Linked DNA regions of Homo sapiens. The protein of the gene in region 1 purifies or fractionates together with the protein of each later gene. This does not show direct contact. Each region holds a gene or a part of one and is shown on either strand. Other genes may lie near its edges.

Region 1 (8,307 bases):
TCAATAATAGACTGAATAAAGAAAATGTGGAACATATACACCATGGAATATTATGTAGCCATAAAAAGGAATGAGGTCATGTCCTTTGCAGGGACACAGATCAAGCTGGAAGCTATCATCCTCAGCAAACTAACACAGGAACAGAAAACTGAACATCACATGTTCTCATTCATAAGTGGGAGTTGAACATTGAGAACTCATGGATACAGAGAGGGGTACAACACACACCAGGGTCTGTTGGGGGGTTGAGGGTGAAGGGAGGGAACTTAGAGGATGGGTCAATAGGTACAGCAAACCACCATGGCACACATATACCTATGTTACAAACCTGCACGTTCTGCATGTGTATCCCTTTTTTTTTAGGAGAAATAAAGAAAAAGAAGAAGAGAAAAAAAAGAAAAAGGACATTAGTGGAAAAACTAGTGAAATCTGAATAAAGTCTAATTTAGTTAATAGTGATTCACTAACGTTAATGTCTTTATTTTGATAAATGTATCACGGCTACATAAGTTGTTAACGTTAGGGAAAACTGGGTAAAGGGCACTGTTTTTGCAACTTTTTTGCAAGTCTAAAATTATTCCACATAAGAAGTGTATTAAAAATAAATTCATTTCCATCCTCTTATTTCCGCAACATACTGTACAAGCAAGACTCAGTCTGTGATTCAATCATCAGTGGTCAGACTATGACTCGAAGGGAAGGAAGTCAAATGCAGTTCATTTTAACATTGTCACTATCCCCTTATTCACTCAAGCCTGACCCAGCCCCTAGACTCTTTCCCCCTGCAAATCTCCTCTTATGCTCCTGACTACAAATCTGCTCTTGATCCCTTGAATTGTTACTTAATAGCATATTAAGACTTGTCTTTGACAGCCTTTTCTCTGACCTTAGATCTTTGCCTCCTCAAAAAATACCTCCCACCTGAATAGCATGCTGTCCTGCCCTCCCACCCATCCCTCTTTATTATATTGCATTGTCTGGTTGTAATGTCTTCCCAGCATTTAGCTTCATGCAAAGGTATCTTGTTCAATCACAAGGTTTACTTATACCTGTCGTCTCTTATCCAGGCTGTAATCTCCCTGGAAATGAGGACTTTTCCTGTCTTGTTTACTGCTGATCCCTGAGGCCTAAAACAGTACCTGGAATGGATAGATGGTATTTTTTTAAATTAATAAATGAATAAACTTCTTGACAGAAAAGTTTCTGTTATATGTTTCTGTATCCTCTCCAGCTCCTAGGACCACTGCAATAATGACTTGTCATGAATTGTGGTGATGCTCTTTAAAATAATCTCTCACTCTTATGTCCATCAGTTCACTGAAGAAAACCTTTCTTAAGTACCAGCCATCTGCTTTCTACAATGTAGAAATACACAGAACCAGATGCTGGTCCAGGAAAGTCAGGTAATGTGAAGGAGGCAACATCATGCTTATTTACAATAACATAGCACTTTTTAAGTTCCAATACACAACAGAGTGGTTAACCTTATAGAAAATAGCATTTGAAAGTTCCTAGAAAATCACTTCAAGAGTCCTAATGCAGTGATCCGAGAGGATGAGTCAGTTATTTCTGGCTCACAATTCTATGATGTTGGTGAAATAGATTGATTTCTTTTCCCAGTGAAGTGGGACGTTTTTAATTTGAATGACAAACTACACAAATCTGCGTTTTATTTTACAAACACTTGTCTCAGGTTTAAGGATCTCAAGTGAAAACTGAAAAACAAAACAGCATGAATAAGACCTGTTCTATGTTAAACTTAATTATTTTTAGTCAGGAGGTAAAAGACAGAAACTCCTGGCCAGGTGCGGTGGCTCATGCCTGTAATCTCAGCACTTTAGGAGGCTGAGGCGGATGGATCACCTGAGGTCAGGAGTTCGAGACCAGCGTGAATAACATGGAGAAACCCTGTCTCTACTAAAAATGCAAAATTATCTGGGTATAGTGGTGCATGCTTGTAATCCCAGCTACTTGGGAGGCTGAGGCAGGAGAATCACTTGAACCCAGAGGCGGAGGTTGCGGTAAGCCAAGTTCGCGCCATTGAACTCCAGCCTGGGCAACAAGAGCAAAACTCTGTCTCAAAACACACAAACAAACCAACAAAAAAAAGACAGCAACTCCCTTCCTGCTTCTGCCTGCTGCTGGCTCAGTCCCTATGCATAATGAATATTGAATGACAGACTCCATCCCCAGACCCCTTCCCAAGGCTAGGATGTTGCTCCTGTGATGTGCTTCCTTTTCACTGCATTCATCATAGTTTACCATAATCGTTTAATTTTCTGTCTTCCTTGTAAGCTCTGTAAGCTCCACCTAGGCGAGCCAGGTCTATCTTGTCCACCATTTTATACCCAGGATTTGGCACATGCCTACCACACACTCTTAGCACAAAAATGCTCAAAAAATAGTTGCATAATGACTATATTATGCGATTGTTTTATGGCGAATGACCATATTCTGAAGAGAGAGACCTCTGTGATGGAGAGCCCAAGCAAGAAGTTTTAAAGACTGAAACGCATTCTGAATAGATACTGGGATAGGCTCCAGCTGTGAAGAACAACAGGCTTTTCAGAAGCACGTGATTGTTACCTCATCCTCACAGGTAATTTTTGAGTAGCTAACCCAATGACATTGTTTTCTTTGCTAGAGTAACTGATGATGTGGCCTTGGAAATTCACTCTGTTAAAAATAACTCTCAACCCTAATTTTGAGAGTTGATTTGAAGTTATAATTTCTCATTCTTCTTCTAAAAATCCAGAAGAATTGGCATCAGTAGCTTTATCTATGTTTCTTAAAAGGTTATCAATCCCTAACGTTAAGCATTTCCATGCACCTGAAAGGATCGGCTTCTCTGATCTAAATGTCTTAAACACCTCGTAAATGTGGGTTTTTTTGGTTTTGAGGAAATGACTGCCAATCTTCACTACTAGCTAGAAAAAGTCACACTCTAGAAAAAAGGGAGTACCTTTCCATTACTACTACCAAAACATAGCCCCACAAATTTAAGTTACAACATAAAAGAAATAACAAATTTTGAGCACTTTCTATATATACTTCAGTTGTATCTATTTCAAAGTCACAGACCCAAAACTCACACATGTAATCAGGTAAATATATATGTATGTACATAGAGCTATAGAAATAGATACATATGTGTATATGCATATATATACTGATATATGCATAAATTTAAACTGGCATATATATTTACACTGAGATAAATGTTTGCGTGTGTGTGTGCGCTCTTACATTTCTGAATCATTCTTCAGCCTGCCTGATCATTAACAAATTAATCTAAGCACATTATTATTTGTTTGTCTTAGTTTTCCAGTCCAATCCAATGTGATTTCGAAGTCAATTCCTTCACATTCTGTTTAAACTCCCTCCCAAGTTTTCTCCCTCTCTGTTCCTCACTATGATCAGGTCTAATCTCCAGGGTCTCATGTTCTGCCCCTCCAAGTAAACAAATTAATCCAGGTTTCATGGACTCTTCCAGTTGTTCAGCTCAAATTGATTACTGTTAAGGGGAATTTGAGGGCATTGGGCCAATTTTTAAAGACAAATATGAATTTTTATGGAAATCTCCAAGTATTTTAATGTTGATAACAATTTTTTTAAAAATTAAATACTATATGCATACCCCTGTCTTCCTCCCCATCCCAAAAAAGAGATGACTATTAGCTAGCCACATTGCAATTTCTGTCCTGGACTGCTGAAGGGTCCTTGGGTATACTTAAGGAATATATAAACCTCTTTTTCAAACTGCAGTCAACCTATTATTAATGTAGTAAAGTTAATTTAAATTCATAGGAATCAGTATTTTTAGTAAGCTAAAAAGAATAATTTAGGATGGAATGAATGGAATTGAAGGAAAAAGAGTGAAAAGCAAGAATATTATTTTGAGAAATGTTATATTTATGTGTGTATGTGTACCAAGTGACACAGAAATTGTATTTCTGAGGAGAGTGGCCAAACAAGTTTGGAAATGCATATATATAATTTAGTTCTATTCAGTTTCCCAAATACAGTTGTCCCTCAGTATCCACAAGGGATTGAGTCCAGGACCCTCTATGGGTACCAATATCTTAGGATACTCAAAACCCTTATATACAATAGTGTAATATTTGCATTTATTTTACACACAACATCCTGTATACTTTAAATCATTTCTAAATGACTTATAATACCTTATACAACCTAAATGCTATGAAAGTAGTTATCACACTGTATTATTTTTAATTGTTTTTTTTTTAATGTTTTCAATGGGGGAGTTGGTTGAATCCACAGACAGGGAATTCAGGTACAGGGAGGGCCAACTCTAGTTCTGCACCCACAGAGGATAGGAACATAAAAATGCGGACTCCCTAAGGCCTCCTTCCCCTCCACGTTCTTTCTTCAGTCTTCCTCTAGGGGGAGCTCAAGTTAGCTTTAGCACAGTGTGAAGCCAGTGCAGCGTCTCGCTTCCACTTCTCCAGGGGGCGCTGCAAAGATTTTGGTCGCCAAAGATATCACGGTGCGCGCGTCTGGAAGCATTTCCGCTCTGGAGCATTTTCGTTCCGCCGGGTGCCAGCGTTCCTGTGACGCGTTTCCTGTTGGCCGAGCTGCGCACGTGCGGCCGGAAGGGAAGTAACGTCAGCCTGAGAACTGAGTAGCTGTACTGTGTGGCGCCTTATTCTAGGCACTTGTTGGGCAGAATGTCACACCTGCCGATGAAACTCCTGCGTAAGAAGATCGAGAAGCGGAACCTCAAATTGCGGCAGCGGAACCTAAAGTTTCAGGGTGAGATGCGTTGACTCGCGGTGGCTCAGAAGACCCACGCGCGAGCCCTGGCGCGTTCGGGCGGCCGGGGGCCCAGCTGCTCTGTGTGACGGAGGCAGCTTCCCCTGCAGCGTGTGTGATTGGGGAGAGTGAAAAGGCAGCTTCCACTCGGGACCCGCGCTGCTGCCCACTCGTCGCGTGGCTCCAGCGCTGCTCCTGACCTTTCTGAGCAATCAGTGTCTTCTTACAACGTTAGAGCGGGAGGACTCCCCGTTCACTTCTAGGCTTACGACTAACCCTGCCTTTTGCATTTCCACCTTAGCTTTTGGTTCCCTCACCACCTGCAAGTCGCACCTCACCTCATCCCTCATTTCCGGTTATGCTGCATGAAACGTCTCATTTCCACCCACTTTTCACATCTATTTAATTCCCGTATTTCTTTCCCCAAAAGCCCGTCTGGCTGTTTCCACAGAGCTTCTTTGATACTATTGCCTTCCTCTACCCACTTCCACACGTTCTCGTAGCACTTTCTCACCAGAGCTTCTACGTATTTGTGTCCCGCACAGTGACCTAAATGAAAAGGATTTTATCTGAATGTCACCTTTCTTACCTACCTCATTTGCAGTCCCAGTGTCCTGACAGTGGGGCCACAGATCTTGAAGTAATTGTGTTAACCTGTTGTCCAGGTTAAGATACAAACTCCCCGAGGGAAAGTTTGGAGGCACAGTGCCTTGCCCCAGTTGGTTTTCAACAGACATTAATTGAAAAAAAATTCTGCAGGAGGCAATAGGTTTGTGAATTTTAGGAATATGTTTTGAAATACTCTTGTATTTCTAATTCCTATAGAATAATACTACAGCATTACTACTTTTCAGCGCATATGTAAGTAAATTTGAACAAAAGATGGTGTTTTATCTTTTTCAGTAAACAAACAGGGAACCTTTGGTAAGGACATTCTCAGGTACAGTCATGCATCGCATAACAGGAGGGGGGATACATTGTGAGAAATGTGTCATTAGGGGCTTTTGTCGTTTTGCGAACTTTATCTAGTTACACAAACCTAAATCTACTACACACCCAGGCTACATGATATAGCCTGTTGCTCGTAAGCTGTCATCCTGTACAGCATGTTACTGTACTATACTCAGAGAATTGTAACACAATGGTAAGTGTATGTATGGCTAAATATATCTAAACATAGAAAAGGTACAGTAAAAAGACTATGACATGAGAGATTTAGAAAATGGTACCTCTGTATACAGTACTTACCATGAATGGAGTTTGCAGGACTGGAAGTTACCCTGAGCGAGTCAGTGAGCGGTGAGTGAATGTGAAGGCCTAGAACATTACTGTACACTATAGACTTTATAAACACTGTACACTTGGGCTACACTGTTGAGTTTTTTAATACTTTTATTCTTAAATTAACCTTAGCCTGCTGTAACTTTTACATTATAAACTTGTTAAATTTTAACCTTTTGACTTTAATAACACTTAGCTTACAACACAAGCACATTGTACATACAGCTGTACAAAAAGTTTCCTTTTGTCCTTATTCTATGTGATTTTTATTTTATTTTTTTTTCTTTTTAAGCTTTTTGTTAAAAATGTAAAGACACAGACACATTCAGTTTCACTGTCTTCCGCTTCCACATCTTGTCCCACTGGAAGATCTTCAGGGGCAACAATAGGCATGGAGCTGTCATCTCCTATGATAACAGTGCCTTCTAAAATACCTCTCTCCCTGAGGCTCTTTTACAGTCGACTCATTTTTTTTTAATAAGTAAAAGGAGTAAACTCTAAAATGATGATCAAAAGTATAGTAAACACATAAACAAGTAACATAGTTTATTATCACGTATTATGTATTGTACATAATTATGTGTGCTGTACTTTATACGACTGGCATTACAGTAGATTTGTTTATACTAGCATCACTACAAACATGAGTAATATGTTGCACTACGACATTGCAGTTACTGATGGCACTAGGTGATAGGAATTTTTTAGCTCCGTTATAATCTTATGGAGCCACTGTATATGTTGTCCTTAATTCACAGAAATGTCATTGTGCACGCATTACTGTATTTGCATATGATAAATATTGGAGCAAATAAGTGGTCTTATCAACTGAATTTTCAACTCACTGCAGTCTAGAAGAGTTGGGGTTGAATGTTTTGAAGTGGTATGAAAAATAGTACTTGTGTGAATGAGTTGTAAATGTCTTTTTCAATATATCAGTTAATCATATGTTTATCAAATACTTATGTTTATTCTGTAACTGCCATTATCTGACCTCATCTGTTTAAATATTTGACCTCATTGAAGTTTTCCTGTCCTAGACTCCTTAAAGTCAGATGTACGGTCTTTTGCAGTTAAGAAATCAATATAGCTTTCCCTTTTCCAGTATTTTTTCTTTAAGATAACTTACTTTCCCTATAAGGGAACACCATAAAACTATAAGTTGTTTTAATTACATGAAAGAGAAGAAAATCTAAATAATTTGTGTCAGGAAGCCATGGAAGTTCTCATTTGGGATTTCAGTGTTTCTAAGTAAACTTCTCCTTCTTTGTCACAGTATATGTTCTGTTTATTTAAACAGGGGCCTCAAATCTGACCCTATCGGAAACTCAAAATGGAGATGTATCTGAAGAAACAATGGGAAGTAGAAAGGTTAAAAAATCAAAACAAAAGCCCATGAATGTGGGCTTATCAGAAACTCAAAATGGAGGCATGTCTCAAGAAGCAGTGGGAAATATAAAAGTTACAAAGTCTCCCCAGAAATCCACTGTATTAACCAATGGAGAAGCAGCAATGCAGTCTTCCAATTCAGAATCAAAAAAGAAAAAGAAGAAAAAGAGAAAAATGGTGAATGATGCTGAGCCTGGTAGGTATTTATTATCTTTGAACTTCAGCCATTTAGTTTTTCACAGACGGTTATTGTTCCTCTTTCTATTACTATTGTGTGCACATGACATGAGAATTCCCTGTACTCACCAGTATGTTAGAGATTAGCCTGGTAGCTAATGGAAACATTTTATTGGCAGAAGCGGGGAGTCCATTTCAACTTTTCTCAAAATATTGAGGAATATATTTTTAATTTCACTAACCTTGAAGAAAACCTCTCTCAGAAAAGACTCTCCTTAGAATTCTAGAAATTTTCTCTTCTTTTTAAGTTACCTTTTTTCCTGCTTGATTCTTCCCATTTTCCTTCCATAAATTCCTCCCTTTGAAAGGAATATTAGTTACAAAGTATATAAAGTAGGAAACTTCTGAATAAATGGAACATTAATTTCCAAGTGCTAAGAATGGCAGGAGGAAAAGGAAGGAATGTTTTTTGAAGATGATGGAATTTCAGTAAGCTCGGATGAAAGAATGGACATTATAATTGAGATTTGTATAAGCAGAGATATCAAGGTAGGATAAGATAGGGGTCAGCAAACTATCCCTCCTTCTACCTGTTTTTGTAAATAAAGTTTTACTGGGTCATAGCAATGCCTATTTGGTTGTGTTTATGGCAACAGAGATCATATGACCTGCAAAGCCTAAACT
Region 2 (7,313 bases), on another chromosome or scaffold:
GGGATTACAGGCGTGAGACACTGCGCCCGGCCCCATCTTTTATTTCTTTAAATATAGTTTCTTTTAGTGATGGGAACATATTGATAAGGGCTGGTTGAAGTTTGTCTGCTAAGATCAGCACCTGGGTGCCCTCAAAGCCAGTCTATTGCCTCTCTGCTCCTTGTGTATGTGACACTCTTTTGTTTCTTTGAATGTCTTACCTTGTTTTTGTTGAAAACTGGACATTTTAAATAATACATTACAACAGATTTCCTTCTTCCTCTAGGGCTTGTTTTTTTTTTTTAAAGACAGGGTCTCATTTTGTCACCCAGGCTGGAGTGCAGTGGTATGATCATAGCTCACTGAAGCCGTGACCTCCCAGGTTCAAGCAATCCTCCTGCCTCAGGCCCCCAAGTAGCGGGGACTACAGATGCACGCCACCACGCCTGGCTAATTATTTGTTTTTTTTTTTTTTTTGTAGAGACACGGTTTTGCCATGTCGCCCAGGCTGGTCTCAAACTCCTGGACTCAAGCGACTTGCCTGCCTAGGCCTCCCAAAGGGCTGAGATTACTGGGGTGAGCCGCCGCGCCTGGCCCAGGGTTTGTTTTTGTTTGCTTGCTTGTTCAGTGTCTGTCTGTGGACTTGTCTGGGATCCAAAGAACAGGTGAAAAATTTGTTTCGGGGAACACGGGCCTATAAAGACTCCGCCATGCCTGTACTCTGCTTGCCCAACACTGACCACACCCACTGCCAACACCCAGAACAGGCTGTCTGCTGGGTACCAGCCCACCCGTGCCCGCCTCACCCTAGCTGCAGCCTCCCTGTGCCCGCCTCACCCAGCTGCAGCCTCCCTGTGCCCGCCTCACCCTAGCTGGAGTCAGTTTCTGGGCTGCAGTGGGAGATCTCCACCCGGGACACTGGCACTTCTCCGCTCATCGTCACAAGCGTAGGCCTGTGGAGTGATGTTTTAGACACGATAGTGAGCAAGGGCATTTGTGCGCAGTGAGGCCTGCTTCAAGCACTTGGAGACGATCCCCGGAGCAGCGCCCCCACCGGCTCTGGCAGCAGCAGAGAGATGAAGAGAATGGTACCCAGAGTCTTGTTTTCAAACCCGACCAACACCAATATCTTCCCAACTCTGCTGTGCTGGAACAGCTCCCAAAGAGGCCTATTTTTACCCATACTGAAAGTCAACATCAAACACAAATTGGAGGGCAAAGACTTTTTTTTTTAATTGGACTTGGCTTTGACGAGTACTGACAAACCCTGCAGACACTAGTACAATTTGATCGTAAACAAAGTCCTTGCCAGCATAGTCCAGCAAATTCTGATAAAACACATACAAAAGTTAAAAGACAGCTCGATTTCATCTTCCTCCCAACACCTGCAACTGTTTCCAGATTTTCTGTGTAGTCTTCTTTGTGCTTTCAGTTCAGTAAAAATTAGAAAGGATAACAAACTTGTAAAGTCAGATACCTAATTGTACAAAATTGACTAGACCATGGAGAAGGGGGAAGCATCATTTTACAAAATATTGTTAAGATCACCAGCATTAATTTAAATTATTTTCCTTTCTGGACTTCCAAGTCCACTTGGCAATTTTACTTAGGAAAATATCATGCGTAAATAGAAAACCAGTATTCTAAACACATTTTCTTTATGTGACATATTCTTGTGCGTCTATGTAATGAGAATTTTTAAAAAATTGTTTTCTTCCTGCTGTCAAAACTTAGGCATTAAAAATAAGGGACTGTAAACCTAGTTGACTTACCCATAAAAAGGAGTAAGTTCGGAGAATGAGAGAAGGACCAATAGAATCTAAGAAGCACCCTGTCACTCCCAGCCGGGACCTCTCAGGCATGGTTTTGACAGGAGGTGCATTTATAGGACATTCACTGGTTCCTCAGAATGGACAGATAATATAGAAATGCTAGGAAAAAACATTCCTGCAATAGTCTGCAGAACAAATGTGCCAGTTTTGCCTTAGATGTCCTAAGACATCTCAACAATGTTGGATTATATGGCCCGTTTGGCTATATGACCCATCTTTAAAGCTGAAATAAAAATTGTTAGAAAAATATTCTAGGAAGAATGAAACTTAAAAAAAAAAAAGAAAAGTTAAAACTATTTGCTCACCTTAATTGTTTCACTGTATCAGTTTTGGTTCTGAATGGGATGTGAGGATCCTATCTAATGCAGCCATTAAGCCACCACAGCTATGTTGTACGTAAGACTTCTCATTACAGTGACGATTAACAGCACAAGTTCATTACTTTTTTCATGGCTCATTATGACAAAACGATTACAGAGTAGGCGAAGAACAGAGTGCTTTCTCCTCACCAGGGCCTTCATCAGTGAGTCAACTGCTCTTGACGCCAGCAAGTCAGTCTGATGTTCGCAGGTGAAACCCCACCCTTGGCTCCATGAATGAATGAGACCGAGGTAAACCCAATGCAAGCTCTGCAACCCCAGGGGCCGAAGCCACGTTGTCCAAAGCCATAGCTGGGACCTTGGAGATCCTGGGGCCCTCTGCTGGGAGGCAGCAGTGGAGAAGGGGACTGGCCGCGTTTTGCTGAAAAACCGAGGCTCCTGTATGGGGGGCATAACGGGAAGGAGGCGGCTTTCACTTCCAGGCCTGAGCAGAGCGTGGCTGGCTGGGAGAGCTGCACGCCAGCCCGAACCGTGTGCCCGTGCCCTCTCACCGTGCAGACGGTAGCTGCGGAAGCCACGGAGAAGGCGAGCAGCCTTGGCGGCTCTCCTCAGGAGCCGCTCACTTTGAATCTGCACCTTCTCCAGCTCTCAGGCCCAGGTCAGACACTTCCTCAAACAGATCAATGATCCAGCAATCGCTGCTCAAAAGAAGGCCTTATTTCTGTTTCTCCAACGAAAGCCTGAGTGCCTTCCGCCCGTGTTTGTAATGAACTTACAGGAGAACGGTCTGAACTGTAAGTGCACGCTTCCGCATTTGAGAGGAAAGGTCGCTGAGCCGGAGCGCAGGCTCCAGATGCGCAGGCAGCCTCTAGGGAAGATGGGGAGCTGCCATGGAGCCGGTCAGGCAGTGACTCGGCTGGAACGTGGACGGAGAGAGAGAGAAACGGGAGCGCAAGGGCTTGGAGGAATGAGTGTGCTCCACGCAAGGACCTCAGCAGAAGGCTCAGCACGGGGCGGGGTCCTGGGTAAGAGCCGGGGGCTGCGCTGGGCTCCCGGGAAGACACTTTGGGCTTGCCGTAGAGGTAGGAAAACAGGGAGGGAAACCGGGTAGGGGGAGGAGAAGAAAAAGCCCCCAGAACGCAGAGCCTCTTCTTTCCCCACCCCTACCTGTCCACACCCCCAGCTGAGCACATGTAGAAAAACTATGGTATTGCTGATTCTGTGACAAGAATCTTCCCCATCGGTAACCTGCCAAACACCCACAGAACATGGCAATGAAGCCCTACATGCTTTTAAAAGAAAACAGACTGTTAAGACTAACAGAAACCAACTTAGTACGGCGAATACGGTAATGAGTACCAAATTCCGCAGAACTGAGAGCTCAACAGAAGTGCAGTTCCACCTTTCATTGTGCCAGCAGCACTGATTGATTTAAAGTTCAGATCAACGTGCTCTCCTCAGCTTCAGAGAGGGTCTCATTTCCTACACCAATGGGAATCACTGAGGTTACCCAAAAATGTAAAATCCTGGAGAGCTCAAACGCAAACATGGTTTGTAGCAAAAGATTCAACCAAGACGCCCGCAGCCACTACAGAGGGGCCAGGACGCAGCAGCCTGCGGGCACTCTCAGAACCTCGTGCACACAACTTATGGGAACTTACAAAATCATAAAAAAGGCCCCACATTCTTAAAGGTATAATTTATAGCGCATTCTGTACAAAAGCAGTCTTTTACAAGGGACTCTGCTGCTCCTCAGAAGAAATCCATAGCCCTGGGCCTTCTCCTTGGTGTGGTGGTCAGGGGCTTCTTGGCCACCAGGGGTGAGCTGGCAGGTGAGCTGGTGGGGGTCTTCAGCACCCCGTGGAGGGGCTTCTGTTCAGGGTCGAAGGCCACTCGAGAAGGGCCCGTGGGACTGACCAAGATACTCTTGTCTGTCTTCTTGAATTCTGTCCCAAATGAGAGCAAGGCCCCATATTAAGTGGGTCCGACAGCTGTCCCTTCAACACCTTAGACAGCGTCCTGCCTGGGTGCCGACCCCACCCACTTGCTAGGACGAAGCAGGGCCATCTCAAGGCCCTGCAGAGAGCAGGCCCAAGAGCCTTCTGAGGAAAGGAGGGCAGTGAGGCCACATCCCATGCCTCAACTCACCCTCCCAAGGGAGGGCCCAGGGCTGCCTGCACAGACTAAGGGGAGCTGCTGGTAGGGTGGCTCCTGGAAGGGTGAACATTGGGGGTGGGGGTGTTTTGGACAATGAGTGAACCAGGCATTTGTGTCTGGGACAAATCTGTGCTATGTGGAGCTGCAGGATTCGTACTGTTCATTTTCTCCAGTTGTAAAGGCTGGGTGAGCTCCTCAGTCTCTCAGAGTCTCTTCTCCCTAAACATACACACTCACGCATGTGTGCATGCACACGCACACACACATATATACTGGTGCATGTACACACACTCACACATACACATACTCTCTATTACTTGCAGTTCCCAACAAGAGTCAGGTCCTAAATTCGTTATAATACTTTTTTTTTTTTTTTGAGATGGAGTCTCACCCAGCCTGTCACCCAGGCTGGAGTGCAGTGAAACGATCTTGGCTCACTGCAACCTCCATCTCCTGGGTTCAAGCAATTCTCCTGCCTCAGCCTCTCGAGCAGCTGAGACTACAGGTGCTTGCCACTACGCCCAGGTAATTTTTGTATTTTTAGTAGAGACGGGGTTTTACCATGTTGGCCAGGCTGGTCTCGAACTCCTGACCTCATGATCTGCCCACCTTGGCCTCCCAAAGTGTTGGGATTACAGGCATGAGCCACCGCGCCTGGCCTATACTACTTTTTAAAACTTTGGTTTCCTTTGTAAAAGCAACTCGAATGGATGGCACCAATATGAAAAGTAGGAAGATAGGGGTTACCCTTCTCTGTCGCCCAAGAAGCAAGTGGTTCCGAAGTTTCGCAGAGAGACAGCTACAGCTGATGGAGCACTACGATCTCAAATGGCCTCTCTATGGGACGGCTTTCAGTATTTAGAAAGACACTTGGGAAAACGGCTTTTTGGATCACGTCTCACCAGGTAGCTTCTCTTAACAGGTCCCAGGCAATTGGCTGCCCACTCACCACTGGCACCCCACTCACAGCCCTTTGAGGATGAGGGACAGACACATAGGTGCTTCCTTCTGACTCAGAAATGGGCAGTGAGGGGCCGGGCTCGGTGGCTCACGCTTGTAATCCCAGATCTTTGGGAGGCCGAGGCAGGCAGATCACCTGAGGTCAGGAGTTTGAGACCAGCCTGGCTGACATGGTGAAACTCCATCTTTACTAAAAATACAAAAATTAGCTGGATGTGATGGCGTGCACCTGTGATCCCAGCTACCCGCTACCCGGCAGCCTGAGGCAGGAGAATCGCTTGAACCTGGGGGGGCGGAGGTTGCAGTGAGCCAAGATCTCGCCACTGCACTGCAGCCTGGGTGACAGAGCAGCGAGACTCTGTCTCAAAAAAAAAAAAAAAATAAAAATAAAGAAATGGGCAGTGAGGAGCTAGGACCCCCCTCTTCCCCGACCGCCTTGTGGAACCAGGCTGCGAGCCGCGCCAGGAGCTGCAGCTGTGCTCCAGAGAAGCTTGCCGCTGGCAAAACCCCACTTACCGGCAGTCATGTTTCTGTTCAGCCCAAAGGTGACTTTCTTGGAGCTGGATGGTGTCTTGTTTAGCTGCAGAAGAGAAATAACAGGAACAAAAGGAGTGACGCAAGTGCAGTGGAGGCGCTTAGTCAGATTTTTCTGGAGAACCTGCCCTGGAGGGTATGCCGCCCACACTGCTGCTTACTGAGTGGCACATATAGGGAGAGGCCAAAGGGACTGCGGCCAAGACTGAAACCGACCCTCCTGTCGGGGCTTCACCAGGACCGCCCTTTGTCCTTCCCAGCGTCCCACACACGCAACCCCCCAGCCCAGGGTCAGTGGTGCCCACACTCTTGGCCCATCTGCGGTCACTGCCTCATTACCGCTGCAGGGTTCTACGATCCAGGGAAGAAAGGCAAACAGAGAGGATGCCTGAACTGTCCTAAAAACAGTTCACCACTGAGAACCCGTGAGGAAAAATGCCAAGACTCCCCTGCCTTTTGCTGGAGAGTTCTGAACTTCTAACTTGAAGACTCTATGACATCGATGAGACGATGCCTATGATGGAATCTCACTGCAATGGACAATGGACACACAGTTTCCAGCTTTTTGTGCACAAGGACTCTGAGCTATCTGCATATCCCAACAGTTCACCACAATCAACTATCTTCTTTCCTACTTACATTCCTGGAAGTGGATCCAGCCTGCATCAGGAAGCACTGCCTCAAGTTCCTGCTCTGACCCACATTTCTGTGTGGACCTCCTACTGCTGACTTGCACCACTTGTGTTTAACACTGTGACATTTCACGAGAGAAAACTGGTTTCTGCAAACCCTGAGCCGGAAGCCCTGGGAGGCAGAATGTGTGGATCAACCGCCCCTCAAAGTCCCCTTCCTGACTGTGATCCCTCAGGGTGGGTCCCAGACCACTCAGACCTTATGCTACCCTGGCCGTGGAACCTGTCCACTGTGGACAGGCTCAGAGGGCCACAGTGGGGCTCCAGGCCCGGCATGGGAAGCACTGTCAGCTCAAGCCCATCTGTGCCCTTGTGGTGAAATGTGCTGTGCCACTCTGGGGAGGGTGCGTACCTGGACGGCAGGGCCTGGAGGGTGGGTGGCAGTGCTGCTCTTGGCTCTTCTGAAGAACAGGGGCTTTGGTAAGAAGGGGGTGTCAAACTTCACAAAGTCGCTCTCTGCCCTCAGCTTCTGCTTCTTCAGGGAACTGCAAGTCCCACTGCTTCCCTACGTGAGCGAGGGGTGAGAAGCGGAGGAGGGGTCAGACGACAGAGCCTCCTGTGCTGCCCACACACACAGGAGGGGAAGGCAGAGCCCCAGGCAGATCCAGCCCACCCGACGGCCCGCGGTCTTCCGCACCGCACTTGCAGACAGCCCTTCCATTCGGCAGAGCTCAGGCTTCACGCACAACACGACCGCTATCATGGCACCATGCCAAGAGGGGCGATGAAAACGCCTCGTCAGAGTAAGGACCCACTTTTATCTTCATCTTCAAAATGGGGATTTTGGCCTTTCAAAGCCGATCTGTTAATAAGATCGACTCTCCCATTTGTAGCTGAAT
Region 3 (8,293 bases), on another chromosome or scaffold:
AGGGAATCAAGAGAAGCATATAATGAAGATCCTGTTCTCAAGATGCTTACCATCTTACTGAGACACTATACATACAAATAGGAAAGAATTAAGAGGAAAATTCAACATAATGCAAAATATTCTAGAATAAACATAAATTTCTCTAAATTATGACAGGTGTTAAATATGTAGGCACTAAGTATTCGGATGATAGGAGAAATTACACAACTGTCCCTCCCCTATAACCAGTAACACTGAGCAGTTTTACTAACTGTGGTGTCAGATATGTGCTGATATATTCACATTCTCTCAAGTAATCTCCCAAATACCAATCCATACATTTTGAAGAGGTTTTCAGGGATTAGGAAAACAGTTTATGGTAGCGAAACAGAGTAAAGCAGGCCCAAAATATTGGCAATGGTACTTTTAAAATAAATATTGACTAAGAGATGACTATGTACCAGGTACTACACCAAGGATTGGGGATAATGAGATAACGCTTGCCTCAAAAACTCAGTCTAGTGGGGAGAAGTGACTGACAGACAGTTTGAGGCCAGGGTAATAGTAACCAGTATGACAGAGATATGCAAGGCCAGGCCCAGTGGTTCACTGTTATAATTCCAGCACTGTGGGAGGCCGAAGCAGGGGAATCATCTGAGCTCAGGAATTTGCGACCAGCCTGGGCAACATGACAAAACCCTGTCTCTACCAAAAACAAGAAATTAGTCAAGCATGGGCTGGGCGAGGTGGCTCACGCCTGTAATCCCAGCACTTTGGGAGGCCGAGGCAGGCGGATCACTTGAGGTCAAGAGATCGAGACCATCTTGGCAACATGGTGAAACCCCGTCTCCACTAAAAATACAAAAATCAGCTGGGCGTGGTGGTGCATGCCTGTAGTCCCAGCTACTCGGGAAGCTGAGGCAAGAGAATCGCTTGAACCCGGGAGGCGGAGGTTGCGTTGAGCCGAGATCATGCCACTGCACTCCAGCTTAACGACAGAGTGAGACTCCGTCTCAAAAAAAAAAAAAAAAAAAAGAAAGAAAGAAAGAAATTAGCCAGGCATGGTGGTGTGTAACTATAGGCCCAACTACTTGGGAGGCTGAGGTGGGAGGATTGCTTGAGCTTGGGGGGGGGGGGGGTGGCGGTTTGCAGTGACCCGAGATGGTGCCACTGCACTCCAGCCAAAGACAGAGCAAGACCACATCTAAAAAAAAAAAAAGAAAGGAAGAAAAGAAAAAAAAGAAAAGAGAAATACGCAAAGGGGAATGTGGAGGCAGAAAAGTTCTGTACTCACACAGAGTCTAACCAAGTTGGTGTGAACCCAGTGTTTTTCTAATTCAACTGCTGAACATCTACATGGCTTCCTGTGTTGACCACAAGGCATAGGGGACTCTGAACACAGGGTAAGAATCTAACTAGGAGTAAAATACTCTTCCAAAAAGCAAAGCAGATTATTTTCTCTGCAAGAAAATTCACATGATAGCACAAAGTATAATGCTAAGCACACAACAGGCATTTAATAAATGCTTGCTAAATTAATTCATGCAGACAGAGATTTCCTTGCATTCTGCTGTAATTCAGTCAGATGTAAAAGACAATTCTTAGAAGAAAAAGAACAAAACCAAGAAACTGCTAAACTCAGCTATGCATGCTGACAACATGTCCAGAAGAAAGTCTGTTGATGGCCCGGCACAGTGGCTCACGCCTGTAATCCTAGCACTTTGGGAGGCCGAGGTGGGCAGATCACTTGAGGTCAGGAGTTCGAGACCAGCCTGGCTAACATGGTGCAATCCCTTCTCTACTAAAAATACAAAAATTAGCCAGGCGTGGTGGCGCACGCCTATAGTCCCAGCTATTCAGGGGGCTGAGGCAGGAGAACTGCTTGAGCCCAGGAGGAGGAGGTTGCAGTGAGTCAAGATTGCACCGCTGCACTACAGCCTGGGCAACAGAGTGAGACTTCGTCTCAAAACAAACAAACAAAATCTGGCACCACAGCCTGAGGGAAATGCTTGATCTGACCCAAGATCAGAATGAAAGCTCCAAAATGGTCAGGGCCACGTCTCACCTCCTTGATGCGCACCCCTTTCTCTCCACTAGTAGCACTCAGCAGCAGCTTTCTGAGCTGTTTGTCATCTACAGCCTTTGGGAGATTGTGCAGGCAGAGCCTGGTTCGGGAGACAAAGATATTCTGGTCCTTGAGTTTCTGATGCTTCAGCAGCTCAAACTGAAAGAACAACCAATGGTTAACAGTACAACCCACTCTTTTTAAGAGGTAGGCTCATAATTCTCCAAAAGGAAAGAATTATGATCCTCATCCCATAACCACACATATAGAAAACGGATGGAAACTGCCCACACCGCAGCTTTACAATGCCTAGTATAGGGAAAGAAAAGTCCAAGGGAACAAGATGGTGGGTGGGTAATAGTAAAATCATAGGCTCTGGAGACCCATCCCTAACTGGAGAAATTACATAAAATTTTAAAGCCACAATTTTTCATCTATAAAACGAAACAGTAGATCAAGGTCTCTGAGCACTGAGGTGAGGCCAAAATGAGATAATATAAGGCTGGGCAGGGTGGCTCATGCCTGTAATCCGAGCACTTTGGGAGGCCAGGGCAGGCAGATCACCCGAGGTCAGGAGTTCAAGATCAGCCTGGCCAACATGGTGAAACCCTGTCTCTACTAAAAATACAAAAATTAGCCAGGCATAGTAGTGCATGCCTGTAATCCCAGCTACTCGGGAGGCTGAAGCAGGAGAATCGCTTGAACCTGGGAGCCGGAGGTTGTGGTGAGCCAGGATCGTGCCATTGCACTCCAGCCTGGGCAGCAAGAGTGAAATTCGGTCAAAAAAAAAAAAAAATTCCCTAGCTCAAAATGTAGCTCAGAACAAACAACAAATAATACTGTGATTAATATCTATGCCCAGTCCTCATCTACCCACCAGCTCAACTGATTATCTAATCCTTCCAAAAGGAAATGGAAGTTATTCAAAGAATACTTGACAGAATGCTGTGTTGTCTCAACTCTGCCACCCTGAGGCAAAGGAGTATCAATGACCACAGAACCATATTTTGCTCTTAGAGCAATACCCTCAACTATGCTGCCACAAAACCCCAGTTCCTGCGTGATCTGTGTCTAAAATGAAATGAAAGATGACATTCTTCTCCCAATTAGTTTTTTTTAAACCAAGTTGGTAGAAAAAAGTTTTCAATTAAAAGTTTTTCTTTTGTCAAGTCTTCTCAGTCCTGCTGCTTCTTGTTTGGTAAAAGTACCAACAGATCACAAAATAAACAAATCCCTTGGAAAACGACTATTAAAGGAACATCTGAAAAGGCTATCATGTTTAAGTTCAACAGACTATTTTTCTGTCAGGAAAAGCTGTGCCTGCTGTGAATTTATAATGCATACCTATCATTGAATGAGCTTTTTGCTAACAAAATTAGTTTTAAATTAAATATGTCATTATTGCACTGTGATCAGACAAGGGTATATAGTGCCCTTATAAAATTGAGGCTTTAAAATTTTCTGTAATTTCTCCAGTTAAGGATGGGTCTCCAGAGCCTATGATTTCTAGGTGTTCACTACCACAAAAGTTGAAAACACTAGTGCAGAATCTGTGCCCACTGAAAAAAAGACGCACTGCCTCCTGCTGTCATTACACTCTCACCCCTGTTCCTCATCTGCATGTTAAGGTTCCATAGCTAATTCTGTTCACAGTTATGCATCTTTACCCTTCTAGGCTGGCTTGGCTTTTTGAAAGTAAGTTATATGGGAAAAAGTAAAAATTACTGGGAACATTACCAAGCAGCAAAGGAATATGAGTTATCGGTTAACATCGGAAACATCCATAAAATGGAGTTTTTCTAAAATGATTTTATAATCTGGAGATTATAACTCCTCCCAACTGACAGCTACCCCTTTCAAGAGCCATATCTTCTCCCTTCTCTAATAACTCCAGCTCATTCTGATCTTCCTCTTTTACATTATTCTGTGTTTATACTGACACCTAATTACATGTAGCAATAGCCTCTGACTGTCTACTGCATGATGTAGCAGCATGTGTTCAGCAAACATTTACTGCCAAGCACTAGGGAAACAAATAATAAGACACAGTTCTTTTATACCAGCATACAAAACAGATAGAATACTATGTATGATGTTGGGTTACTTGCTATTTCACCTATGTGCTTTTCTCCCTAACAGGGCAATAAGTATGGTCTGTGACCATACTGGGCTCTTTGATGAGCACATCTAGCATTCGATAACTATTTTTGATTGATTTATAGGCCACGCAGAACGTGAAGGTCAATGCCTAATCTACTCACCCGTTCTCTTTTGGCCATATCAGCAGCACTCACACCCTCTGCAGCCTTCGTCCCAGCACGAATCACTGCAGAAAGAGGGAAAAAGGCCAAGACATCAACAAGGGAATTTTCACTGAGCAACAAGAGGAATGTGATTTGAATGATGCAAACTCTTTGTACAGGGCCCAGAGGACTATCTTGGCCAGGACACGGTGGCATTTGGTTAGGTCCAGAAATAGGCTACAGGGCTAAGTTCTGGGCTCAGAGCTGCTCTCAAGGACTAAAACTCTAAACATTTTGTGATTTTATTCCTCTTCTCCTTCTCTCCCCTCAAAGAATCTTCACGTACATGCCCAAAGTCAGAAAGAAAGGCCTAGAAGAAGTATGGAACATAAGTACATTTTGGGCATTTAGAATGCACAATGTTCCACCTATAATCTGCCCTTGGAACTTAACTTTGCTGTTCCTTATATACTTGAGGTCCATTACTAAACAGTGAGATAAGCCAGCCGAAAACAGTTATGTTGCCATAGAAGGCTGGTGTCGAAGGCTAAAGGACATTACTAGTACAGGCTGTGAAGCTATGGAGGAGGTGAGCTGATAAATGCTGTGTGACCTAGAAGAATTTTTTTAAAAATTTAAAGCTAATTTTTTTGTCTTTCTGACACTAAAGGAAAGTATTGGGTGCACATTTTAAATCCATGAATAATCCAAAAGAGTAATTTTAGTCATAATGAAAACCTCTTATTAGAAATGATGACAAGAAGCAAAGGTATTTTGAGTTCTTCCTCCCCCTTTGCCTTGCCAATCCTCTATTGAAAAAGACTAAAGGCAACCAGGCAGAAAAGATAATGGGACAGTTAATCCACAAAAACGAGTGAAGGTTTACTAATAGAGAGCCACATTTATTAAAGTGGAATGATCATATAACACTGTTAAAGAGAACATTTGGGTTTTTAATTTGAAACATGCTTCCAGGCATACTATTGCTTGATCAATGATTATGGCACAGGGCCAGGTACTTAGAAGTGTGGGTTACATCTCCCTACTCACAGCCTTCTCGGGCCAGATAGAGATTCCGGGTGCCAGTCGGCTTCTTCACCTTCGTCGTCTGAAGCTTTGCAGCCTCATCACGGGTCACCGCCAAGTCAACCTTGAGCTGCCGGCCATCCAGTTTAAGCCCACCAGCCTGTAACAGATCACAACCCTTTCTTAAAACACATAATGGCCGGGCACAGTGGCTCACACCTGTAAACCGAGCACTTTGGGAGGCTGAGGCAGGTGGATCACCTGAGGTCAGGAGTTCAAGGCCAGCCTGGCCAACATGGTGAAACCTCGTCTCTACTAAAAATACAAAAATTAGCCGGGCATGGTGGTGTGCGCCTGTAATCCTACTCAGGAGGCTGAGGCAGGAGAATGGCATGAACCTGGGAGACGGAGCTTGCAGTGAGCGGACATCGCGCAACTACACTCCAGCCTGGGAGACAGAGCGAGACTCCACCTCAAAAAAAATAAAATAAAATAAAAAAATAACAAAACAAAACAACACATAATGAGTAGAAACTAGAAACTAAGCACCTGACAAGAACACCACAGAAAGGGATACAGCAAACATCAATTACGCTATGGAAGCCAAGCCCTACGACGTTTCAGCTCAGCTAGCTACAAATGGATCACTGGGCCTCACAATATTTAGTATAGCTGTGCAAAAGGCCACATGTGTATTTCAGGCAGTCAGCAGTAAAGAATTTATTTTCTGGGAGTTGATTAGTCCCAAAGTAGACCCAAACTGAGGAAAATTATCTGTAACCAGGCAAATGTCTAGTATTGTAAAGTAAGCTAGTGAAATAGTAGAGTACTTACTCAAGAGGACTTAAGAAATAACAGCAATATTAGATAACATTATACTCGACTATAGAACAAATGGAGTAATTCTCCATCACCCACACACATTCTCTCTCAAACATCTACTCTACTTCACAGACGACCTTAATACCTCATCCTAGTCTTTCATGTTATCAGTCTAGGATAGAGGCTGACACAGACAGCAAGCAACAAATATCAGATACGTTATTATCCCCTTTTCCTCACCTATGAAGTAGAGATCATAATTCTGCCTACCTCAAAGGGCTGATGTAATGATTAAGATAATGCATGTAAAGTTCAGTGCCTAACACAAAGTGCTAAATAAGTGTTAGTTTTATTATTACTGACAAGAAAAATAATAATAAAGCTTTGTATAAATACCAGATGTTGCCCCTAAGAGCCAAACTGCCTCCTGTGTTATAAGGTAAAGGAAATATCTTCCTTACCTCATTCTCTGGAGAAGCAGCTAGAAGGCATTTCTGAGCTGCTTCTTGAGTCATGAACTGGGCAAATGCACAACCTGCACAAGGAGACACAATTCAGTGAGATCCCAAACTCCCACAGATAAACCAAAGACAACATTGCAAATGGCAACAGCCTGACACAGAGTGGAAGGGATAGGTGGCATCCATTTATTAAGTACAGCCATGTAGCCGGGTGCAGTGGCTCACACCTGTAATCCCGGCACTTTGGGAGGCCGATGCGGGCAGATCATGAGGTCAAGAGATCAAGACCATCCTGGCCAACACAGTGAAACCCCGTCGCTACTAAAAATACAAAAAATTAGCCAGGCGTGGTGGCGGGCACCTGTAGTCCCAGTTACTTGGGAGGCTGAGGCAGGAGAATGGCGTAAACCTGGGAGGCGGAGTTGCAGCGAGCCAAGATAGTGCCACTGCACTCCAGCCTGGGCAACAGAGCAAGACTCCGTCTCAAAAAAAAAAAAAAAAAAAAGTACAGCCATGTACTTGCATAAGGACGTTTTGGTCAGTGACAGACTGCATATACAACAGTGGTCCCAGAAGATTACAATGGATCTGCCCTATACAGTTGTACCATTTTTTATCTTTTATACTGCATTTTACTATACCTTTTCTATGTTTAGAAATACTTAGATACACATATACTTACCATTATGTTACAACTGCCTACAACATTCAGTATAACAACATGCTGTGCTGTACAGGTTTGTAGCCTAGGAGCACATATGACCTATGTGTGTAGTAGGCCATACCACCTAGGTTTGTATAAGTACACTATGACATTCACACAATGACAAAATCACCAAATAATGAACTTTGCAGAATGTATCCCCATCATTAAGTGACGCATATTGCACTATGACACAGGCACTATGTTAGGTACCAAATAATCAAGACAAAGATACCACTGCTCTTAATGAAATTTTATTATTACTTCCTTCATCTGTTCTAATTCTTCTTAGAACTTTAGTCTCATGATCTCTCTTAATAAGAAATATCCATGTGAAGGCTGGGTGTGGTGGCTTACACTTGTAATCCCAGCTCTTTAGGAGACCAAGGCAGGAAGATCGCTTAAGCCCAAGAGTTAGAGCCTAAGCAACATGACAAAACCCTGTCTCTACGAAAGAAAAAAAAAAATTGGCTGGGTGTGGTGGTGCATGCCTATAGTCCCAGCTACCGAGAAAGCTGAGGTGGGAGGATGACCTGACCTCGGGAGGTCAAGGCTGCAGTAAGCCATGATCACTGCACTACAGCCAGGGTGACAGAGCGAGACCTTGTCTCAAAAAAAAGAAAGAAAAGAAAAGAAAAGAAATATCCACATGAAATGGTAGAGAAATTCCAGCCTAACACTTAATTCAGCATCACTTATGAAGTACCTATTAGAGGACTAAAAAATAAAGCAGGAACCACTTAACCCTGAACTTAATTACAGATCTCACTGTCACACAGTCACTTGGGAGGCATCAGATATGGGCAGATCTGCTTCTCAGAGTAAAAGTCTCTGTCCTCTACTATATGAATATAGCAGGGAACCAGAAAGCCAGGAGCTCAATTCTTGGCTCATACTCTAGAATCTCCATAAGGCATGCCTTTCCTTGATTAGATGCAGGACCAATTAACCCATCTCTATTTCTGCTATTGACAAAAAAACAATTTTTTTTTTT

What was found.
Region 2: the proteins of DDX18 (region 1) and RRP1B purify together in Homo sapiens (affinity purification with mass spectrometry; 2 studies listed by BioGRID and IntAct, with this or other methods). This does not show direct contact.
Region 3: the proteins of DDX18 (region 1) and RBM28 purify together in Homo sapiens (affinity purification with mass spectrometry; 2 studies listed by BioGRID, with this or other methods). This does not show direct contact.

The regions. Positions count from the first base shown.
Region 1 is NC_000002.12:117,810,087-117,818,393, forward strand, and holds the start of DDX18 (ATP-dependent RNA helicase DDX18), read left to right. Parts: upstream 1-4,604; 5' UTR 4,605-4,691; coding exon 4,692-4,776; intron 4,777-7,357; coding exon 7,358-7,642; intron 7,643-8,307. UniProt on the Homo sapiens protein: ATP-dependent RNA helicase that plays a role in the regulation of R-loop homeostasis in both endogenous R-loop-prone regions and at sites of DNA damage.
Region 2 is NC_000021.9:43,689,954-43,697,266, reverse strand, and holds the end of RRP1B (ribosomal RNA processing protein 1 homolog B), read right to left. Parts: intron 6,980-7,313; coding exon 6,827-6,979; intron 5,829-6,826; coding exon 5,765-5,828; intron 4,078-5,764; coding exon 3,884-4,077; 3' UTR 1,188-3,883; downstream 1-1,187. UniProt on the Homo sapiens protein: Positively regulates DNA damage-induced apoptosis by acting as a transcriptional coactivator of proapoptotic target genes of the transcriptional activator E2F1.
Region 3 is NC_000007.14:128,319,222-128,327,514, forward strand, and holds part of RBM28 (RNA-binding protein 28), read right to left. Parts: intron 6,671-8,293; coding exon 6,597-6,670; intron 5,474-6,596; coding exon 5,338-5,473; intron 4,371-5,337; coding exon 4,306-4,370; intron 2,204-4,305; coding exon 2,045-2,203; intron 1-2,044. UniProt on the Homo sapiens protein: Nucleolar component of the spliceosomal ribonucleoprotein complexes.